Homo sapiens: one gene and its partner. The protein of the gene in region 1 purifies or fractionates together with the protein of each later gene. This does not show direct contact. Each region holds a gene or a part of one and is shown on either strand. Other genes may lie near its edges. The genes, in order: KAZN and YIPF1.

Evidence for each region.
Region 2: the proteins of KAZN (region 1) and YIPF1 fractionate together in Homo sapiens (co-fractionation; one large-scale study listed by BioGRID). This does not show direct contact.

Annotation. Positions count from the first base shown.
Region 1 is NC_000001.11:15,095,160-15,098,979, forward strand, and holds part of KAZN (kazrin), read left to right. Parts: intron 1-3,768; coding exon of another isoform or gene 3,769-3,775; exon of another isoform or gene 3,776-3,820. UniProt on the Homo sapiens protein: Component of the cornified envelope of keratinocytes. May be involved in the interplay between adherens junctions and desmosomes. The function in the nucleus is not known.
Region 2 is NC_000001.11:53,865,478-53,869,297, forward strand, and holds part of YIPF1 (protein YIPF1), read right to left. Parts: intron 1,448-3,820; coding exon 1,281-1,447; intron 906-1,280; coding exon 723-905; intron 1-722.

The DNA of each region.
Region 1 (3,820 bases):
AGAGGCCCCAAAGGCCCTAGTACACCCCCAACCAATGCGGGAACCTCACGAGCCCCCCAGCACTCCTCTGCCTTCCGGGACCAGCCCAAGCAGCTCTGCACACTGGGCCGCCATGGTGTCTGCTCCTGGTTCTTACCATACATAACAGGGTGAGGAAAAACGGTGCAAGGCAGAGCCGAGGCAGGCAGAGATCAAGTAGGCGTGAGTGGGCTTGGTGAAACCTCTCCCATAGAGGAGCGGGCCAGGTGGAGGGGGCTTCTCTTAGCAAGCATACCTGGGATGGCTGCAGGGCCTTCTCATCAGGTGTACCCCCGCAGGCCACCCACCCCCACCGCTCATACCACTCCTGCTCTGCCTCCGGCCTGCCTGCCTCTCTCCTGGCTTTCTGTGAGCAAAATTTGTTGAGCAGGGGCAGCTACAGGGTAAAGGGAAGGAACCCCCACCCCCACCCCGCCCCACCCCGTTCTGAGAATGTGGAGAGGGGAAGAACTCGCTTTGTAAATCTGACACTTCTGTTTTGCATAATTATGTCCTTCACTGGTTTCTCCATCATTTTTGTGTAGTTAGTTAATCAAACCTGGTGGTGTGTGCTGTAATTTGCAGAAGCAGCTTAGGGGATTTTTTTAGAAGCAGGGTTTGGGGTGGAAAATCGGCTGGTTTGGAAGCAGGAAAACCAAATCCATATGTGTGCAGGAGAGGGGCCCTCGGCATGACTCTAGGGTGGCAGGAAGTACTGAGGTGAGACTGGATCAGAAACTTAGGGAGCGACTCAGAGCAAGAAGGTGCCAGGCCTCATTGGCACCATCAGGATGCTGGCTCGTCTGAGACAGGGCTGGGCTGAGGGATGGGGAGGAGGGCCATGAGGGCAACCCCTGCTGGGCTTTCCTTCCTGAGGGTCCCAAAAACACCTTACACCCAGCACCCACCTCCTAACCAGTTCCATCCAGGAATCCCCTAAAGCCATCCCTGAATCCCCTCACCATCTTTGGTCACCCAAGTAGGAAATCCCTCCTGCCCCCTTACCCCACACCCAGCAGGGTCCATAAACACTGCCTGTGTTCAATGAACAGGGTGGGGATGACTGCTTCATCTTTCAAAAACTTCAGGAGTCTGGGCTACTGCCTGGGTTCCCCCTAAATGGGGATAAGCTTTTCTTCTTTTCTTTTCATAGATTACTTTTGTAGTGGGGGCAAGGGCAGAAAAACAAAAACACTAAAAGCCACTTTGATTTTGAAGAGAAGAAATGCATGGGGGGAGGACGTCCCCACCGTCCTCTGCCTCCCAGGGGTGCGGCCTGCCCAGCCCCTGCCCCCGACAGCCTCGTCCCCCAGCATGGCCTGCACTTGTGTGTTGCACAACACAGCCCCTAAATGGGGCTGTCTTAGTCTGCTTGGGCTGCCATAACAAAATGACACCATCTGGGTTGCTTAGACAACAACTTACGTCTCACAGTTCTGGAGGCTGGAAGTCCAAGATCGGGATGCCAGCATGGTTGGGACCTGGGGAGGGCTCTCTTCCTGGCTTGCAGAAGGCAACCTTCTTGCTGTGTCCTCACATGGGGAAGAAGGAAGAGGGAGGGGGAGAGAGTGATGTCTCTGGTCTCTTCCTGTAAGGACAATAATCCCATCATGAAGGGCACCCCTATGACCTCATCTAATCAGCTCCCAAAGGCCCCAGCCACAAATACCATCACATCGAAGGTTAGGATTTCAGCATGTGAATTGGGTGGGGGGCATGGCAGAGGGAAACATTTAATCCCTAACAGTGGCACCACGTTAACCTCCAGGAACCAGGAGTCTGTGGTCCCAGGGATCGTGGAGCCCCACCCTTAGACACCCCCAGGGCTTCCTGGAGGAGGCAGAGGACTTATTTTGAGTTTTCTACTCCCAGTGGGAATCTGGCCTGTCTCCAGTTTGCCACATGACCTTGCCCTCTCTGGGACTGTTTCCCACCTGAGAAGTGAAGGGAGTTAAATTAGGACAGTGGTTTTTAAACTTTTGAGGATCATGACCACTTTAAGAATCTAATAAGAGCTTTTGACACTTTCTCTAGAAAAAATACACAAAACTTCACAACTTTTCACTGTGTTGGGTTGGTGGGTGGGACTCTCTGGCCCACCCACTTTCAGGGCTCCATGGACTCGGGGGTAAGAACTCTAAATGAGTTCATCTTCGAGAACATTTTCAGCCATGACATCTTGTGTGACCATGGGCATGATGGCGTCCTCTCTGGGACTGGTCACCTTATCTACAAAATACCAATGACAAAACCCACCAACCCCTTACCAACCCATCATCACCTTATGGATATCATTTTATTTACCCTCACAACATCAATGCAGGATAGACATGCTTACTCCCATTTTAAAGATGGAGAAGGCCGGGTACGATGGCTCACACCTGTAATCACAGCACTTTGGGAGGCCAAGGCAGGTGGATCACCTGACATCAGGAGTTCGAGACCAGCCTAACCAACATGGTGAAACCCTGTCTCTACTAAAAATAGAAAAATTAGTAGGCGTGGTGGTGTGTGCCTGTGATCCCAGCTACTCAGGAGGCTGAGGCAGGAGAATTTTTTGAACCCAGGAGGCGGAGGTTGCAGTGAGCCGAGACTGCATCATTACACTCCAGCCCGGGCGACAAGAATGAAACTCCGTCTGAAAAATAAAGTCGGAGAAAATTAGATGCAGAGAAATCATGAGCATAAAGTCACACTACAAAAAACCTGACTTCAAAGTCAGTTGCCTTTCCAGTGTCCCATGCTGCCTTTGTGTTAAAAACAAGAACAATGACAGCTTCTACTACTACTATTTATAGAACACTAGGTGTGTCCCAGACCCTGTGTTAGGGGTTTTGCATTCTCCTCTCTTTTAGTCCCTACAACTCCATGAGGCAAGCGCAATTCTCCCCGTTTTACAGAGGAGAAAACGGAGACCCAGAGTTTCAAGGTCCCAGAGCTAAAAAGTAATAGAACCAGAACAGCTTCCCGTTTTCCGTGCTGCGCCGTGACCCAGACAATATCTAAATTTTGTGCCGTCCTCAGATTTCAGAGTCTAATCCGGCTCCAGTTCAGGGATGGGGCAGTGACAGATTTTATAAAATGTCTGAATTCCTTTTAAAATCATGCTGTTTTATTCAACTTGGGCTCTTACAATAAATAGCTCAAACCAACAGCTGGGAACGTATCGCCAAGCTGCGGCCCCATGGGGACACCCTTAATGAAAAGAGAACATTTCTGAAGGGCAGGAGCACATTAATTGTGGGCATGCAGATGGAGATTGCTGATTATGGATGGGCCCCTCTCGAGTAGGTTAAGTGGGGTGCCCCCTTTGCAGCTCTCCACCCCAACTCTTGTTGCACCATTGATTTGCTGACCAAACTCTTGCTTCAGAGAGGAGAGGAGGCCATTCTAGTCTTCATCAGTGACAAATCTGGCCCAGTGGCATCTGATTCAGAGGGCTGTGGGCTCCAGCTCCTGCCCGAGAGAACCGTCCTGTAACAAGGCTGAGGCCGGCCCTTGAGGGACTGGGAGGGGGACTGCCCCAGGACCTTTTCATCCTAGAAGGGAGGTTGTCTTGGGCCAGAAGTTTCCAGTTCAGGAGCTCCAGCTGGGCAGCCTCCAGGTGGACTGGGGCAGATGACCCGCTCACCCAGCACTGCTCTGTCATCCACACATTCGACTATGAGACAAACACTGGTGAGTGTGAACTCAGAGCCTGAAGGGGCCCTGGACATTCACAGATAAGCCACACCCCACCCTGCCCCCCAGGAGCTGACCGTCCAGTGAGGCAGCTGGCCAGATGCGTAACCATGAACCACAA
Region 2 (3,820 bases), about 39 Mb from region 1:
TGAGTAATCTGGAAATGATGTAAAGCACATAGGAGGATGTCTGTACACCATTTTTATATAGAGAACTTGAGCATCCATGCTTTGGTATCCATAGAGGGTCCTGGAACCAACCACACCCCCACAACCCCCATACCAAGGAACAAATGTATACAGACACTCATCCACACCTATTTCCTCTGGTCAGACCCCAAATTCTCATCAGATTACTGAAATTAGGCAAAACCAAAGACTAAAGCCAAATTCTCATAATTTCACCACTTCCCATGTAGGTGAGTCTACTTAAAATGAAATTTTATTTCATAGAATCAATTTTTTTTTCTTTTGAGACAGGGTCTCCCTCGGTCACCCAGGCCGGAGTACAGTGGTATGATCTCAGCTCATTGCAACCTCCACCTCCTGGGCTCAAGCGATCCTCTCACCTCAGCCTCCCAAGTACCAGCTACTTGCGATGCTGAGGTGGGAGGATCGTTTAAGCCACGATGCCCAGCTAATTTTTGTATTTTTAGTAGAGACAGGGTTTCACCATGTTGCCCAGGCTGGTCTTGAGCTCCCGAGCTCGAGATCCGCCCACTTGGGCCTCCCAAAGTATTGGGATTATGGGTGTGAGCCAACATGCCCAGCCCATGGACTCAATTTTAAAAGAACTGTTGTGTCTAACAGTTTGAGGTCTTTTAGCATTTGGATATAAAACACACCAAAAGAATATACGACTGAACCCATACCAAGCAGCCCACAGAAAGCAGCATATGGAGCAACACAATTGTCACAATTGTGGCCAATGCAACGCGTCGGTTATCCTCACGAACAGCTGGCCAAAATGTCATTGCCAAGAGAGATCCTGAGATGCCCAGGGCAATCATGACTAGAATCCAACGAACAGCTTTCTGGGGGATAATCCACAGTATCTGAAAGAAGAGAAAAGGAGGAGCGGGGAGTTCTTGGGAGGCATTTGTTCATTCCAGGCACATATGTTTACAAAGGCCCCTGAGCCAATCAGCAGCTGGGCCCCCATTGCCACTCTGGTTTTTCAGTACAGGCTGGAGGAACACCACCAGCATGTAGACTGAGGCATATGCTTTTATAACAAAGGGCCCAAGATCCAATGAAGGCACTAGGCTCCCCAGACCCCTTTCATGCTTAACTTCTAACTTCAAAGGAGATTTTTTCAGAAGAACATGAGTATTGCGCTGGAAATAATGATGGTAGGTCAAATTCTTGGTTGAAGTTTCTACCAAGAACAGAGCATCACTCAGAATCTACTCCCTAAGTATGGTACTTACTGCGGTGGGGATATAAATGAAGAGGGAATATCCATAGACACACACAATCTCCAGAAATGAATAGGAGACGATGTTCATAACTTTGCTGTTTCTCCACATGAGGAAACCCCAGAGTGCAAGAGGAACCAGCCAGGCATAGGCATAGATGATGGTAGCTGCTATGGACACTGAGGATGACAGGACACAAGTTTCAATCTCCATCATGCCTTTAGTAGACTATCAGAGCACTTCCAACACCTTATTGTACTTAAATGCTAACATGTCAATTGACTTCAGTGGACCACGGAATCATGTCTTACTGGTCTGTAATCCCTGAGCTTGGTACAGTACCTAACACACAGTAGGCACTTTAGAAATGTTTGTTGAATTAATGAATCTTTACCATTCGTCTTTGTGGTGAGGATCAATAGTCTCTCATATGGTTTTTATAGGTCATTTAATAACTAACAACTAATATTATTAAACAACTGAACTATGCAACTGAAATACTTCAGAGGGCCACACTGCAAATGTTCATATATAGTAGATATTTCAATCAAATAAAAACCAACTATCCCCTTGGAAGAACATGTTCTCTTCCTCGGTATAACAAGAGCTGACACTGACTTCCTTTTTTTTTTTTTTTTTTTTTTTGAGACAGAGTCTTGCTCTGTCGCCCAGGCTGGAGTGCAGTGGCGCGATCTAGGCTCACTGCAAGCTCCGCCTCCCGGGTTCACGCCATTCTCCTGCCTCAGCCTCCCGAGTAGCTGGGACTACAGGCGCCCGCCACCACATCCGGCTAATTTTTTGTATTTTTAGTAGAGACGGGGTTTCACCGTGTTAGCCAGGATGGTCCTGACCTCGTGATCCGCCCGCCTCCGCCTCCCAAAGTGCTGGGATTACAGGCGTGAGCCACCACGCCCGGCTGACACTGACTTCTTTAGCAAATGTATTAAAATGCCTTGGGTAGAGATTAACTTGCTCTGCATGCTCTCTAGAGTTCCTCTGTCTCTGAAATTGGGAGATGCAGCTCACTGATTAACTGCTTGAAATATTCTCCAGTTATACTTTCTTCCTTAAATAAATAATTCCGCCACTGTGGCAAAAATGCTATTGAGTGGCTCCTCAGAACAGCAACGTTCAGCATATTCCTGTACCTCTCTCCTCTTCCTCTAGTAGCAGCACGCCCTGGAGGATTCCCTTTCCCTCTTCTGGAGTGGAGGTCATAAAGTTATAGGTAAGCCATGGCACCAGCCCTTTCTACATGAAAATCAGTAGGTAATTCACTTAATGCATCTTGGCAAGAACAAAGACACCCCTAACAATTATAGTCAGACTCTGGTTAAGACATGAATGTCCAAAACATGTTTTAGCTCCCAGAACAGTTTTTTCACACTGGGAATTGCCTCGTTAGGCCAAATGTAATTCTGCTGATGTACTGCCTTTTTCTTGGATAACTAAGGGAAGAGGAGGAAATTACTCCCATGGCTATAGCTGTCACTTATTGATCAACTACTGGGCATCAGGTATTACACTCGGTGCTTTATTGAGAGGCAATGTGGAATAATGGTCAAGGGCACAGACTCTGTATACAGACTCCATGGGTTCTAGTTCTAGGAAAAGAAACTCTTGGGGGTAAGTTACTTAACCTTCCTGTCTCAGTTTCCTCATCTATAAAATGGGAAGAAAAATAATATACTACCTTCTAAGATTAATAGGAGAATTAAATGAATAAAAGCAGGTAAGAACTGTTCTATGTAGAAGAGCGACTGATCAATAATAAATGCTCAATCAAGAATTAGTTTTTATATTGTTAACTAATATGTAGCTACATTTATTTCATACAATCTATATTGTCATTTTAGAGATGAGGAAAAGGGGTCAGAGAAGCTAAGTTGTTTGGTCAAGGTCACATAATTAACAAGTTAGTAGAAGCAGGATCTCATCTCAGATGTGACTCATACTTTTTACATAAAACGGAAAAATGTTTATTGATAGGGCCAATGACTACTTTACCAGTATATATATCACATCACTTCCTGATACTGGGATGCCCAGCCAAAGAGGATAAGAACAGGTAAAGACTCTCCTGAGTTTCCAGATCCCCAGGCAAAGTGGTTCACTCCTTCTTCTATGTCAATATACCTACACTTATCTCTGATATAGAGGTTAATATGTACTGTTTACAGCAATAGTCATTTACTAGCTTTCTAACCACTGAACTACTTGAAGGCAGGATCTATATCTCATGGTTAATATTTACTGAATTAAACTCAAATCAAGGTTATTTGATAGAGTTGGGATTGAATCCAAGTCTGACTCCATGATGGACAAGAAGGGAAAGTGGGCATGGAAGGTAGAGGGGAAGAAAAGAAGGAAGGATACATGGATACATTCTCTCTCTCTCTCTCTCTCTCTCTCTCTCACACACACACACACACACACACACACACAGGCAAATACATATCTTTCTATGTACACACAGTGAACTAGCTGAAGGCAGGGTTTCTATCTCATGGTTAACATTTATTGCATTAAACTCAAACCAAGGTTACTGGATA